Linked DNA regions of Homo sapiens. The protein of the gene in region 4 interacts with the protein of the main gene of each other region in a pairwise test. Each region holds a gene or a part of one and is shown on either strand. Other genes may lie near its edges.

Region 1 (2,563 bases), on a different chromosome or scaffold from region 4:
CGGATCTGCACCGCAGGCTTCTGTGTCTCCCACAGCCATTGGCATAAGGAAACACGGACACGGACTACTGGCCCTCAGTGTGCCGTGTGAGCATCCACGCTCCCTCCCACGAACACATGGGGTTCTTGACACAAACTCGCAGGAACGAGAAGGTAACATGGGTCGGGCCCACCCACTGTGTCTCACCACAGATCAGCCTTCTTCCCAACATCAGTGCAGTCTACAGCGTGTCTACTGATTATAGCTAAGCACTTCTTCACTAACCAGTTAGAAAAGAAACCCCAAAAGGCTTTCCATGACAGCCTCGAGAAATTCCGGATTATTTAGCATGTAGATCTCACCTGGTATGTGTTTTATTTCATGCCCTAAGATAAAAAATATTATTTCATTTATACTCAAAGTGGTGGATGGATATTAATCTTTACCTCCAAGATGACTAGCAGATTTATAAAGAAAAAGAAATTTAAAGAACTTCCACAAGAAATAAGTTACACCAAGAATACTGTTATCACTACAAATTTTATTCAGAAACCCATCTTTGTATGTTTTTTTTTTTGTTGTTTTTTAAAAAAAATTCCCCTTATGAACTGGTTTGGTCAATCAACTACAACACTTTCTAGCAGACATAAGGTAAAAATGGCATGGCTCAGAATCGCCCAGATCTTTCACGATCTCTCGACCGCCTCCTGTCACGCTCCCGTCCGCCGCCACCTCCACCACCGCCACCGCCACCGCCACGACCACGGTCTCTAGACCGAGAACGACGCTCCCGGGATCGGGATCTTGATCTATGCCTGCAACCAAGGAAAATAAAGAAAACCGTGCCATCCAAACCACGGCACGCAGCACAGAACCACACCCACTCTCTCAACACGCGCAGCTCCTCAAGCCAACGGCACTGATAAGGAAAAACACTGCTGAAGAGACTGCACGCCGTGACTGAGACACACCCTGATTTCAGGTGTGAAAAGTTTCAGGAGAAAAAAATGTGCAACTTAGAAGTGAACAGGTGTAATACCTTGCATCTTCTGTCTTCTTCTAGAACCAACTCAAATGGTCACAGGAAATCATAATCAAAATGAGCTGGACACATACCATCTTCAACCCTCACTGACCCCACGCTTCAGGCGCTCATAGCTACTGTGTCCATCAGGTTTTTGGGCTGGGGAGAGCAGGCCTGTTTTTCTCTTATGCTTCTTGAATGCTGACAATAAAACAATCGCCACCCATCTATTTACTAGTCCATGTTTAACAGAAGAGGGATGAGAACCTCTCCAGACTCAGAACTCAATCGGTTCGATTCTGACGTCTTGATTTTCTCTGCTCTGTGACCTGTCGTACATTTAAATGTAGGATCAGAGAGATGTGACCGCTGGGCCTGATTCTGCCAGTGTCCCGAAGGGAGGATGCCAGCGATCCCAAGACATAATGAAATGCCCTAAAACCAACAAGCAAAACCAAAAGAAACCCCAGTGGACATGTGAAATATGTAAAGCAAAAGCTTGTCCAACCTGCAGCCCAACACAAATTCATCAACTTGCTTAAAACATTATGAGATTTTTTTTGCAATTAAAAAAAAAGTTATCAGCTATCATTAGTGTATTTTATTTGTGACCCAAGACAATTCTTCTTCCAATGTGTCCCAGGGAAGCCATCCCTGATCTAAAGGAGGTTACAACATCTATTCTTCTTCTTCGTAATATCTGGGAGAATAAACTGCATGCCCACTTTCACCACGAGCCTCATGTCCGCGGCTGCCCAGCTAACCGCCCTCTTGCTTGATTACTAAGATCTGATCTCTACTTGAGAAGTTGGATAATGAAGTTACCTGTGTGCAGGTGAATATTCTTCTCCAAAGAGGACATTTGGATATTTAAAAATATGTACTATGTTCTAAGCACTGCCTTTTAAAAAACAGAAACAACACCTATGCCAAAATTTTTTTTTTGGAAGGGGGAGGGTTGTGAGGGGAGAAAGAAGCCACTGAGCTTAACAACGGGCACAGGAATACTCACTTCTTGCGACGGCGGCCATACAGCTCCCGCCGCAGCTCTCTGGAAATGGGCTTCAAATGCATGAAGTTGCAGAAGCCGCCTCGTGTGCATTCTCTGTGGGTGGGTTGGAAGGAGACATTTACTACCTCGTGTGCACACGGCCCCGAACTGTGCTCAGTCACGTCACTGGCCACTCCTCACTCACCCCATCTCATACTGACGGCAGCAGGCTTCTCTGAAGTCCGTCACGGGTGACAGCTCGGCGTGGATCGGCTGTCCATTAAACCAACGGTTATTCAAGTCAATCACAGCCTTTTCCGCATCTTCCTCACGGCGAAACTGAAAAGACAAAAACAGAAGTGCTTGCCATCCACGCTTTAATAAGACTTTCTCAATTACCAATCCAAGTATGTATCAGAGAGAGATATACACACTCAGGTATAGTAAGGTGGAATAGTATTACAGGATAATTGAAAAATCCTTTATTTTCAATGAGATTAACTTCAAGATAGTCCAAGATTTTGCCAAATGTTGCCTTCATTTTTCAAATTCAACTGGTTAAAGGAGCA
Region 2 (3,500 bases), on a different chromosome or scaffold from region 4:
GCCCAGGACAGGTGAGTGTCCCTCAGCACCTTTCACCTTACATCTGAGGATAGAACTGCATCTTCTGGGCTGTCAGTAGGCTGGCAAGGGGCATAACTGGGACACCCAAGCACGTGGTCCGTGGTCCCAGTCCAGCTGATGTTTGCTGTAATCAGAGTTTTCTACCACCTAGCCTCATCACGCCTCAGGGCTAGGGCAGAAGGCATGGCAAAAAGATGCTGATGCTCTAGGCTCCAATTCCCCATGGAACCCTAGGCAGCCCTTTTGCCCTGTTTAAACCTCAACCTTCCCCCTATAAATGGAGGAACTTGCAAAGAGTGGTCCTAGAGACCTCTTCCCAAGGTGCCACCTGTCTTGGTGATCTGGACGTGGGCGAGTAGTGAGGTCAGCCTGCCTCCCAGGCAGCAATGATTAAGGACCATGATAAATAAACTGGCAGAGTGAGGGTGCAGGCCCAGTGCTTGCCAGCAAACAAAGCACTGGACTGGACACAGAGTTATTTCAGATCATACTGTAACTGAGCATGGAGCAATGTTGCTCCACACAGCCATGAGGCTTTCTGGCTTATCAAATGTGTACATGGACAGTACCTCACTTAATCCTGAATACAATCCTGCCAATTAGATATGGCTGTTCTCACTGTAGAGACGAGAAGGTAGAGAGGCAAAGGTTTGGAAGCAAAGCAACCTCTACACTGGGTGGACATGGAACACAAAATCACAGTGGACATATTGGACCTACATAGCTTAGTGCAATGATAGAGGTGGCAACAAGTCAAACAGTGCCTGGCACACTGGGACACCTCTACCTTCTGCCCTAACATCTTCCAATCTTCTCAATGTCCCTGATCAGGGCTTTCTGGGAGGCCCTCTGGACCCTGGAGATGGATCCAACAACAGCCTTGGCCTCCCTGCTATATGGGGGCACAGCTCTGGAGGGAGCTCCTAACTCCCTGGGCCTGCATCTGCTCTAGACCCCAACGTGGCTCAAGGCACTCACCCCCAGCCTTCCCTAGCTGCACCATCACGGCTCTGTCTTCTGCTCAGACAGCCCAGCCCGTCTAGCCATGGCCACTTCCCAACTCTGGCAGCTTCGCCCTGGGCCATGGCTGAACCTCGTGTTTCCTTTGCCCATGACCACAGGGAGTCAACTGCCAGTGCTCACTGGCAATCATCCATCTGTTCCAAGGTTGAGAGACCAAAATAGACCTCCTCTTGGTCCTGCCCACAAATAGAGCCTGCTGTGAAGTTCCTTAAATGGAAGCTTATGGGGCAGCTGCCTGGTCTGACTCTGAGACACAGGGTGACACAGGGTGGGGGTAAGGAATCAATTACTCGGGAGGGATGAGAAGCGGGTCCCAGCTCTAGGGAAACATACATTTTCATGTGCTAAAGGCATCTTTGAGGACATGTTCAGAAACAGACAGCAAGAGAAAAAGGCAGTTCCCACAGCCACAGAGGCCAAGTGAGTGGTCATGCCAGCACTGAGCCCCGGCATCCAAAGGGTGAAGCTTTTAGGCGAGCAGCGGCCAGTGATCTCAGCTTCCCCCAGTCCTAATGCTCCTGAAAGGCTCTCTCCTGCTCCCTGTAATTGGGCATCAGTAGTTAATGCAGTATTGACTGCATTACACGCTCCCGTGCCTCCCCTCGCTAATGCCAATTGCATCACCTTGTACAGTCACTGGCTTGCTTAGCCAATAGCCGTTAAAAGCAATCCAAATCATGAATCATATGGGAAACTTTTAGCAAGACACCGCCATCCAAGGAGACAATTTACAGTTGAGTTAATCTGGGTACATTAGCGAGACATGGATTCCGGACGACAGACCAATTTATGTTGTTTCCCTGTCCCCCCTTAGTGCTGCTCTGTGTGAGCAAATGAATGGAAGAGCAGGGAACAGAGAGAAGCACCTGCTTCTTCACCCAAGGCTCGGGTGTGTGTGTGGGGTTGGGGGGCGGGTTACCCATCTTTACAGACACTCTGCCTGGCTAAGTTTGGGCAGGAAGGGGAAGCGGCTGTATGTGCAGCTCAGGATGTGATGCCTCATTCCCAGCAGAAAGGAGGGCTGCCGCTGGGGCTGGTCATGGTAGATGCAGATGGTAACCCTCCCGCTCCCCTGCTTCTAGGCACTGGGCAAGTGCACAATTTGGTCCCCACCCTGCCAGACTCACAAGGCCTTTACCAGGCCTCAGCAGGCAGCAGTGTCCACTTGGCTCCGCCTTCCTGCTGATGGGCTGGGGTCTCTGGCATGGAACAGCATCAGGGCCTGCCTCCCTCTCCAGGGTTGGGACGGTCATGAGCACACTCTGCCAGGAGAGGCCCCTGGGATTCTCTGTGGTCTAGAACATGAGTGTCTATCCTAGGAAATCCTACTGGTGGCCCAGCAAGGGCTGGTTGGTACCCAAGCATAGCCATGCGCCGGCTCTGGTGGATTAACTGAGTCGGCTGTGGAATTTGTGCTCCTAGCAGTCATTAACAATTGAAGACTCCGCTGTCTGGTCCTCCTCAGTCCAGCTTCACTCTCTTGGGCATTTTTACTTATTAAAAATGCCCTAGGAATCATGTCTGGTGTTTAGTTCCACAACCCGCCTGCTGCTTCCTGTGGTCACCCCCACCTTCCTGCTGGGCCTTTGCAAAGGCCGTTTATACCCAGCCCTGCCCTTCTCCTGTGTGCACCTGAGAGCATCCCAGCATCCCCAGCTGGATGCCCCAGCCTCCTCTCCTGCCCAGTCCCCCACAGACCAAAGCTCTCACTGTTCTTGGGCCCTCTCAGACTCTCTGCTGTCTGCTCCTACTCAAAGGCCTCTTCTCGAACAGCCCAGGGGCTCATTTGACTTGGGTAGCATTCAGAGCTGTAGCTCTCCTTGCTCCCTTGGGATTTTAACCCTCCCAAAAAGCTCACCACCTGGTGCCAGCCCAAGCCGCAGGTGCCAGGGGAAGAAGGGCTGTTTCTCCGGGAAAGTTGGAGCTCAGTTCCATTTCGCTGACAGGCAGACCCAGCAGCATGTAGAAAGCCCGGACCCTGAGTTCCAGTAAAGTGGAGATGGCTAGGCCAAGAGCAAGCATCCAAATGAAAGCAATTAATCTTAAAACCCGAAGTTTAACCGTTTGCAAAACAGATCTTTCCGTCTCTGTGGTGACCCTTCACTGCTCGACCTAATGGATTACTTTATTAATAATGCACTGTGCTTAAAAGCAAAAAAAAATTTTTTTTTTCTGACGATTCAATACTTCAGAAAGTCTCTTAAACCCGTTGCTACGGCAAAACGATTGATATTTTATTATCTTTCAGAAGTGCAACATGAAAGCCCTGCAGCCCAGCAGAGCGGGAGCTTTGGTCCTCGGCAGCTGGCAGACCCGACTTCAACCAGAGGAGCCCCAGCCTCTCCAGACAAGATGCTGTCAGGTGGAGAAAAGGCGTTGGGGGTGGTTAATAGCAGCCCTGAGTCCCTGCTGCAGCCAGACAAAAGGTGCCGTATGCAGGGAACGCACCCTTTGGG
Region 3 (3,500 bases), on a different chromosome or scaffold from region 4:
GGATGAAAACACATTTTGTCAGTGTCAAGTTTATATCAGCAGAGCCACCCTGTGCTCCTAAGTCACACCTCGCAGGAATGGGAGGCAGAAAGGTTGCATTTAGAAGGAAAGGATTAGCTCTGGAAAGTGAGTTTGGACATTGAGGCTCCCCAGATCCATAGGGATGATGGATGTTGGCAAGGACAATGGTCACAATATAAGTAACAGATACCGATAACACTGCCTAGCATTTATTGAGTGCCCACTATGTACTAAGTATTGAGTAAATGTTCCAGAGCTGTTATCTTATGGTGGTATTTCTTAAATTTCTCATAACGATCCTATGAGGTAGGCTGCTTCACTGTATTTCCTCGAGTATACAAAGCCATCAATTCAATAAAAGCTTTTCACATCAAAACATATTAAACTTACACAACGAAGTTTTGTTGTGTCATGCTTTTCCTAACAAAATATAGAACATATTCATAACATAACCTCTTTATTCTTCAGGATGATAACGCAAGTTTGAATCGAAGCCTAGATATTCAGAGTCACAGAGTCTCCATGCACAACTGCTAATTGTAAAAAATATATATATAATAAAATTAAAATTAAAAAACAGAGTCAGAAAGTTTCTGGCTCCCTTTCAGCTGTGCCCATGCAGTTCTCCATGTCCCACCTGGGATTTCTTTAGCCCCTTTAGGATGGATGGTATAATTTAGAGCTCAGCGAAGAACAGAGGCTCCTTCCACATCTCCTGTTTTATTAAACTTGTGGCTTTCCCCTTCTTAATTGGATATCTGTCTTTTGACTAAGAAATACTTCACAGTGCATGACAATCACCAACCTTTCCTAGCTTTGAAAATTGTGTGATCTAAACTTAGAGATTTGCCTGAATCTGCACATGTGCTGGCACTGACATCCCAATTTCTCCTGTCTGGTGACTGACAAGGTTGTTATTGTTTAAGCATTGATTATTAGATGCTATCCTATTACTTTAAAAAAAAAATGTGCCCAGTCCGGTGGCTCACGCCTATAATCCCGGCACTTTGGGAGGCCTAGGCAGGTGGATCACCTGAGGTCAGGAGTTCGAGACCAGCCTGGCCAACATGGGAAAACCCCATCTCTACTAAAAATACAAAGATTAGCCAGCCAGTCATGGTGGTGCTCACCTGTAATCCCAGCTATGTGGGAGACTGAGGTGGGAGAATCATTTGAACCCGCGAGGTGGAGGTTGCAGTGAGCCAAGATCATGCCACTGCACTCCAGCCTGGGCAACAGAGTGAGACTCTATCTCAAAAAAAAAAAAAAAAAAAGTTTAAGGGTGTCTTAGAATTAGTTTGTAACACTGAAGGTTAAAGATATTAAACAGTTTACCTTCCATGTCATAGCTGGCAGGTGATGTAACTAGAATGCACACCAAGTCGGCTGGGTACTTCTCAACATTAAGGCTGTAATGACTTTCTCCTTCTTTCTCTCTTGAATCTTCTCAATGAGGCCTTCCTTCCACCATTCCTCCAAAACTGCTCTTGTCAAGGTTACCAAAGATCTCCACATGGCCAAATGCATTGACTAATTCTCAATTGTTATCTTACTTTCAGCAGCACTTGACAACTTTTTTTTTTGAGACAGGAACTCAGTCTGTTGCCCAGGCTGGAGTGCAGTGGCGTGATCTCAGCTCACTGCAACCTCCGCCTCCTGGGTTCAAGCTATTCTCATGCCTCAGCTTCCTCAGTAGCTGGGACTACAGGTGCGTGCCACCATGCCCAATTTGCCTGGCTAATTTTTTATATTTTTAGTAGAGACGGGGTTCCACCATGTTAGCCAGGCTGGTTTCAAACCCTTGACCTCAAGTGATCTGCCCACCTTGGCCTCCCAAAGTGCTGGGATTACAGGCTTGAGCCATTGCGCCTGGCCATTTGACACCATTTTTAGGAAACAATTTCTTGACTTGGCTTTCTTAGGTCTTCTATATCGACATCACCCTGAAAACCTTCTCTGCTGCTCTTTTTCACTTCTCCTAACCTGCCTGACCTCCAGATGCCGAGTGCTCCATGTTAACCATCCTCAGGCCTCTCTTGTCTTTCTGCATCCGCTCTTTGGTGACCCCATCTAGTCTCATAGCCACTTCCACACTCCCAGCTCTGACAAGTGCATCTGCAGCTCCCAGCAGCTGCCCACTCACCCTCCTGCCTACTCTCCATCACTCCCTGGATGCCAAATAGGCTTTGCAAACTGAATGTCTTCAACCAAACTCCTCTCTTTGGCATTGTCCCTGACTCCTCTCTTTCGCTCACTCCCTACATCTGATCCTTTAGCAAGTCCTGTCAGCTCAACCTCAAAATTACATTGAAAACTGTTTTTTAGAGACAGGGTCTCACTGTGTTGCCCAGGCTGGTCTTGAACTCCTGGCCTCAAGTGATCCTCCTGCCTTGGCCTCCCAAAATGCTGGGATTACAGACGTGAGCCACCACCACATCTAAATCCACAACTACCACCCTAGACTATTAGCCTGTAATTGGCCACCACTTCTATCCCCCGTCTCCTCAATAAGCTTCTTCCCCACCCGGAAGCCAGAGTGACCTTCCCCAACCTAAGGCAGATCAAGGTGTCAGCTGCTTAAAGCCATCCAGGGGCTCCTTGTCTCAACCCAAGCAAAGCCAGAGCTCTTTGAGCTGCACAGCCTCCTTGTTCTCTGATGTCTGCTGGCTCCTGGTTTCTGTTTCTCCTTCCCAGCCTTGCTAATTGTTCTCCAGCCAGGCTGCTTCCCATGTGGGTCTCACACAGCCAAGCCCCCTCTGCCTCAGGGACTCAGGCTTTTATACTTGGGGTTTCTTCTGGTACCCCTCTCCCCCTAGATTTTCATATGACTTGCACCTCATTTTCTTTTCTTCTTCTTCTTTTTTTTTTTTTTTTTTTTTTTTGAGTCAGGCCCAGGCTGGAGTGCAGTGGCACAATTGTGGCTCACTGCAGCCTTGATCCCCGGGGCTCAGACGATTCTCCCACCTCACCCTCCCAAGTAGCTGGGATTACAGGTGTGCACCACTACGCCCGGCTAATTTTTGTATTTTTAGTAGAAATGGGGTTTCTCTAAGTTGCACAGGCTGGTCTCGAACTCCTGGACTCAAGCAATCTGCCCACCTCAGCCTCCCAGAGTGCTGGGATTACAGGTGTGAACCATCATGCCTGGCTGCCCCCTCATTTTCTTGAAGCCTTTTAAAATGCTACCCTAACAAAAGAAGACCTTCCTGCATAAAACAGCCACCTCCCAGAATTCTGTTCTGTCCTCTCTGCTCCAGTTTCCCCCGCAGCACTGGTACCCGCAGCACTGGTACCCGCAGCACTGGTACCACTTGCTATAGTATACATTGGTTTGCTTCTGGCCTCTCCACACCACTGTAACCCTAAGTTCCAGGAATGCAGGGACTGTGACTGTTTTAGTCACTTGCTGGGTCCCGAGTGTTTAGAGTAGAGGCTTGCATGAAGTGGGCTCCCAGTGAATGTTTGTTGAATTATCAGAC
Region 4 (3,500 bases):
ATTCATAAACGTTTTGAGATGACTTTGGGAGTGCCTGGAGAGTTTCATTCAGCTTGGTGCATGTGGGCAGTGAAAAATATGCTCATCTGTGATAGTAGATGTGGTTTGGTTCACAAATCCAGGGGCTGGGCTTTAAACAGCATTAGATGGACAGAGGAGGGTTGCTACAGCTGAGGTCTCAGCTGGTGCAGCACAAAAGTGAAATAGGTCCATGGATATCTGAAGCCATATGTGGTTCTGTGTGGCTATGGAGTCATTCCGGGAGACGTTCACAGGATGATTTGGGATTACCACTGCTATTGTAAACCATGGAAATTCTGTGTTAATATTGGATCCTATTTGTATTTGTCAAGCATAGTCTGGATGCTTATCCACATTTTGGTATAAGGCCAGAATTGAAGGCCCAATATGATGTGTCACTTTGACATCTTGTGAAAGTGGGACAACCTTAAAAGGTGTGAGTACAAATCTCATTCCCACTCTGCTCTCTTGAATAATGTATCCTAGCCTAACAGCCCGTTTTATCAAGGTGATAAGGCAGGGTTCCAGGTTGTTATATTTTGTGGTGGGTTTCAATTCCATCCCTACCAGCAGAGTTATGGAAACAAACCATTGCATATTCCCAAGGGAATCATGGGCCGTTATACCCTCTTCATCTTGTGAAATAATTTTATTTGTGGGGGCTGGGTGCAGTGACCCACCCCTGTAATCTCACTTTTGGAGGCCAAGGCGGATGGATCACTTGAGACCAGGAGCTCAAGACCAGCCTGGCCAACATGGTGAAACCCCCTCTCTACCAAAAAAAAAAATACAAAAATTAGCCGGGTATAGTGGTGCGTGGCTGTAATCCCGGCTACTTGGGAGGCTGAGGCACGAGAATCACTTGAACCCAGGAGGCGGAGGCTGCAAAGAGCCAAGATCATGCCACTGCACTCCAGCCTGGGTGACAGAGCTAGACTATGTCTCAAAAAAAACCCCAAAAAACAAAGTTCTATTTGTGGGGATGCCAGAGAGAGGCTGATGGTAGGGAAAACTCAGGTAGGGGTGGCCATGGGGATGTGTCTTTGCAGTATAAAGAATGATGTATATTTAGAGAGGGAGTTTGTCCAATGGGCTCAGGCAGCTGCCCTGGGCTTTACATGAGCTTGGATATCGCTATTCAGAAGGGGATGGACCTTTTTATGTCAGGACCTCAGCATGGATACCTATTTGTCCACTTACTGCTTATTGCTGATGGCAATTGACCAGTGGGCCCATGAAGAGACAAAGGCACTAGTGGACATAGTTTCAACACTATGTTGGGGACCTTGGGAGGAGGATGGGCAAGTGTGGGTGTGTGGGAGAGGTGGGTTGTGGTACCTCAGCAGAGGGGCTGTTTGTGGTTTCATCTGTCACTATCATAGCAGGGCACTGTGACCTTTGAAGATGTGGCTGTGAACTTTTCCCAGGAGGAGTGGTGTCTTCTTAGTGAGGCTCAGAGGTGCTTGTACCGTGATGTGATGCTAGAGAACCTGGCTCTCATATCCTCGCTGGGTAAGTTGCTCACGCTCACCTTTGTGACCTGAGCTAGTGTTACTGTTCCCCTGTTTTTCATTGACAGGACTGTCTTTCTCACTTAAGGAGCCTGGACACAGGTTCCTTCTACACTTCTCTATGTAAGTTGTGTGTATTGCCTTTTCCTTTCCTTAAGCACCTCCAACACCTGCTTTGCTCCAGGCTCCCAGGGAAGGAGTCAGAGTCAGGAGTCTAATAGGCACCTAAGTGTATCCACTTTGCCTGCTCTCTGGCTGTCAGGTGACTGTCCAAATCGGTAGCTCTTGTGTGCCCAGGTTCTATTAACACTTCCTTCCTCTATCTGACAATGCTTTGTGCCTCCCTGTGCCAAGAATTGCCTTCATTGACATTGTCACTACCTACATAGACCATAGACCATAGACTCTTCTTGCAAGACCCTGCTTAGGAATTCTTTTGTAATACTTACCTTACTCTCCTGTGGGCTGTCAGGTGCTTAGTTGTCCTGAGCTAGTGTTGGCTGTTCATCTCTGCTGTCTCTCCCTTCATAGTTACATCGTCGGGTCCTATGTACTGGGTGTGAGATGGAGAGACCTCCATGTTTGACAAGATGTGGTTCAATTCAGGCTCATCACGATAGGCTCAAAGGGAGCCTGTCCCTCAGGAGTGCCATGCTGGGGGAGGGCATGACTTCAGGGGTTTATCCAAATCATACCAGAAACCATTTATATTTGCCAAGTGTTTTTGTGGCAATATGAGTAGGCACACACTATTTGTCTTTTTCTCCCCATTGTTGAGAGTTTCACACGTGTTAGTTCTGTACCTTTTCACTTCTACTGTGATATCCACCCCAGCACTAATACTCACATCTCACCCATTTTTCTTGTGCTTTCATCTGCACTTGTCTCTGATATTGGTGTATCGATTACATATTAGGAAGTGTATGCCCTATGTTAAACCATCCATGACCACCCTCTGCTGTGTTGTACTCATGTTTTCTTGGTCTTGACATATGCTTCTATATTTATATTTTTTGAGATGGAGTTTCGCTCTTGTTGCCCAAGCTGGAGTGCAATGGCACAATCTTGGCTCATTGCAACCTCTGCTTCCCAGGTTGAAGTGATTTTCCTGCCTCAGCCGCCCAAGTAGCTGGGATTACAGGCCTGCACCACCACACCTAGCTAATTTTTTCTTTTTTTAGTAGACACAGGGTTTCACCGTGTTAGCCAGGCTCGTCTCCAACTACTGAACTCAGGTTATCCACTTGCCTCACCCTTGCAAAGTGCTGGGATTACAGGCATGAGCCACCGCGCCCAGTCCATATGCTTCTACATAGCACTCACATGTCATTAGGAGATAAGGTCCCGTACACAACTTGTGTTTAGAGGAAGGAGCTGTGGACCCTGCCTCTACTCCCTGTGTTGCCTGTATGCTTGTGCTCTTTACATCATGAGGCCTCCTGGATTCTGTGACCTTTATAGCCCAGTAATGCTAGGCAGCTCATTCTTCTTTTTATTATTATTATTATTATTTTGAGATGGAGTCTCGCTCTGTTATCCAGGCTGCAGTGCAGTGGTGCGATCATGGCTCAATGCAAACCTCCACCTCCCGGGTTCAAATGATTCTCCTGCCTCAGCCTCCCGAGTGGCTGGGATTACAGGCGCTCACCACCACATCCAGCTAATTTTTGTATTTTTAGTAGAGATGGGTTTTCACCATGTTGGTCACGCTGGTCTCGAACTTCTGACCTCAGGTGATCCACCCGCCTCAGCCTCCCAAAGTGCTGGGATTACAGGCGTGAGCCACTGCGCCCGGCCAGCAGCCCCATCTTCAACTTGAAGCCAACATTGTGTTCCTGCAAATATTTCTATAGATTAATTCCTCAATTTGTGAGACGTACTTGTGGGTGGGCTGTGCCTTCCCGTCAGAGGTACTTTGCACTTGACCAGCATTTTCTTGCTCTCAGGTTGTTGGTGTGGATCAAAAGA

The links. Proteins that work in one complex are often made in the same cells at the same time.
Region 1: the proteins of ZNF417 (region 4) and splicing factor U2AF 35 kDa subunit-like protein interact in binary tests that used the Homo sapiens proteins (3 or more experiments, as listed by UniProt).
Region 2: the proteins of ZNF417 (region 4) and LMO1 interact in binary tests that used the Homo sapiens proteins (3 or more experiments, as listed by UniProt).
Region 3: the proteins of ZNF417 (region 4) and LZTS1 interact in binary tests that used the Homo sapiens proteins (3 or more experiments, as listed by UniProt).

Annotation. Positions count from the first base shown.
Region 1 is NC_000021.9:6,484,123-6,486,685, forward strand, and holds the end of splicing factor U2AF 35 kDa subunit-like protein, read right to left. Parts: intron 2,334-2,563; coding exon 2,200-2,333; intron 2,109-2,199; coding exon 2,016-2,108; intron 795-2,015; coding exon 647-794; 3' UTR 501-646; downstream 1-500. UniProt on the Homo sapiens protein: Plays a critical role in both constitutive and enhancer-dependent splicing by mediating protein-protein interactions and protein-RNA interactions required for accurate 3'-splice site selection. Recruits U2 snRNP to the branch point.
Region 2 is NC_000011.10:8,257,379-8,260,878, forward strand, and holds part of LMO1 (rhombotin-1), read right to left. Parts: intron 1-3,500. UniProt on the Homo sapiens protein: May be involved in gene regulation within neural lineage cells potentially by direct DNA binding or by binding to other transcription factors.
Region 3 is NC_000008.11:20,255,464-20,258,963, reverse strand, and holds part of LZTS1 (leucine zipper putative tumor suppressor 1), read left to right. Parts: intron 1-3,500. UniProt on the Homo sapiens protein: Involved in the regulation of cell growth. May stabilize the active CDC2-cyclin B1 complex and thereby contribute to the regulation of the cell cycle and the prevention of uncontrolled cell proliferation. May act as a tumor suppressor.
Region 4 is NC_000019.10:57,910,093-57,913,592, reverse strand, and holds part of ZNF417 (zinc finger protein 417), read left to right. Parts: intron 1-1,403; coding exon 1,404-1,533; intron 1,534-3,478; coding exon 3,479-3,500. UniProt on the Homo sapiens protein: May be involved in transcriptional regulation.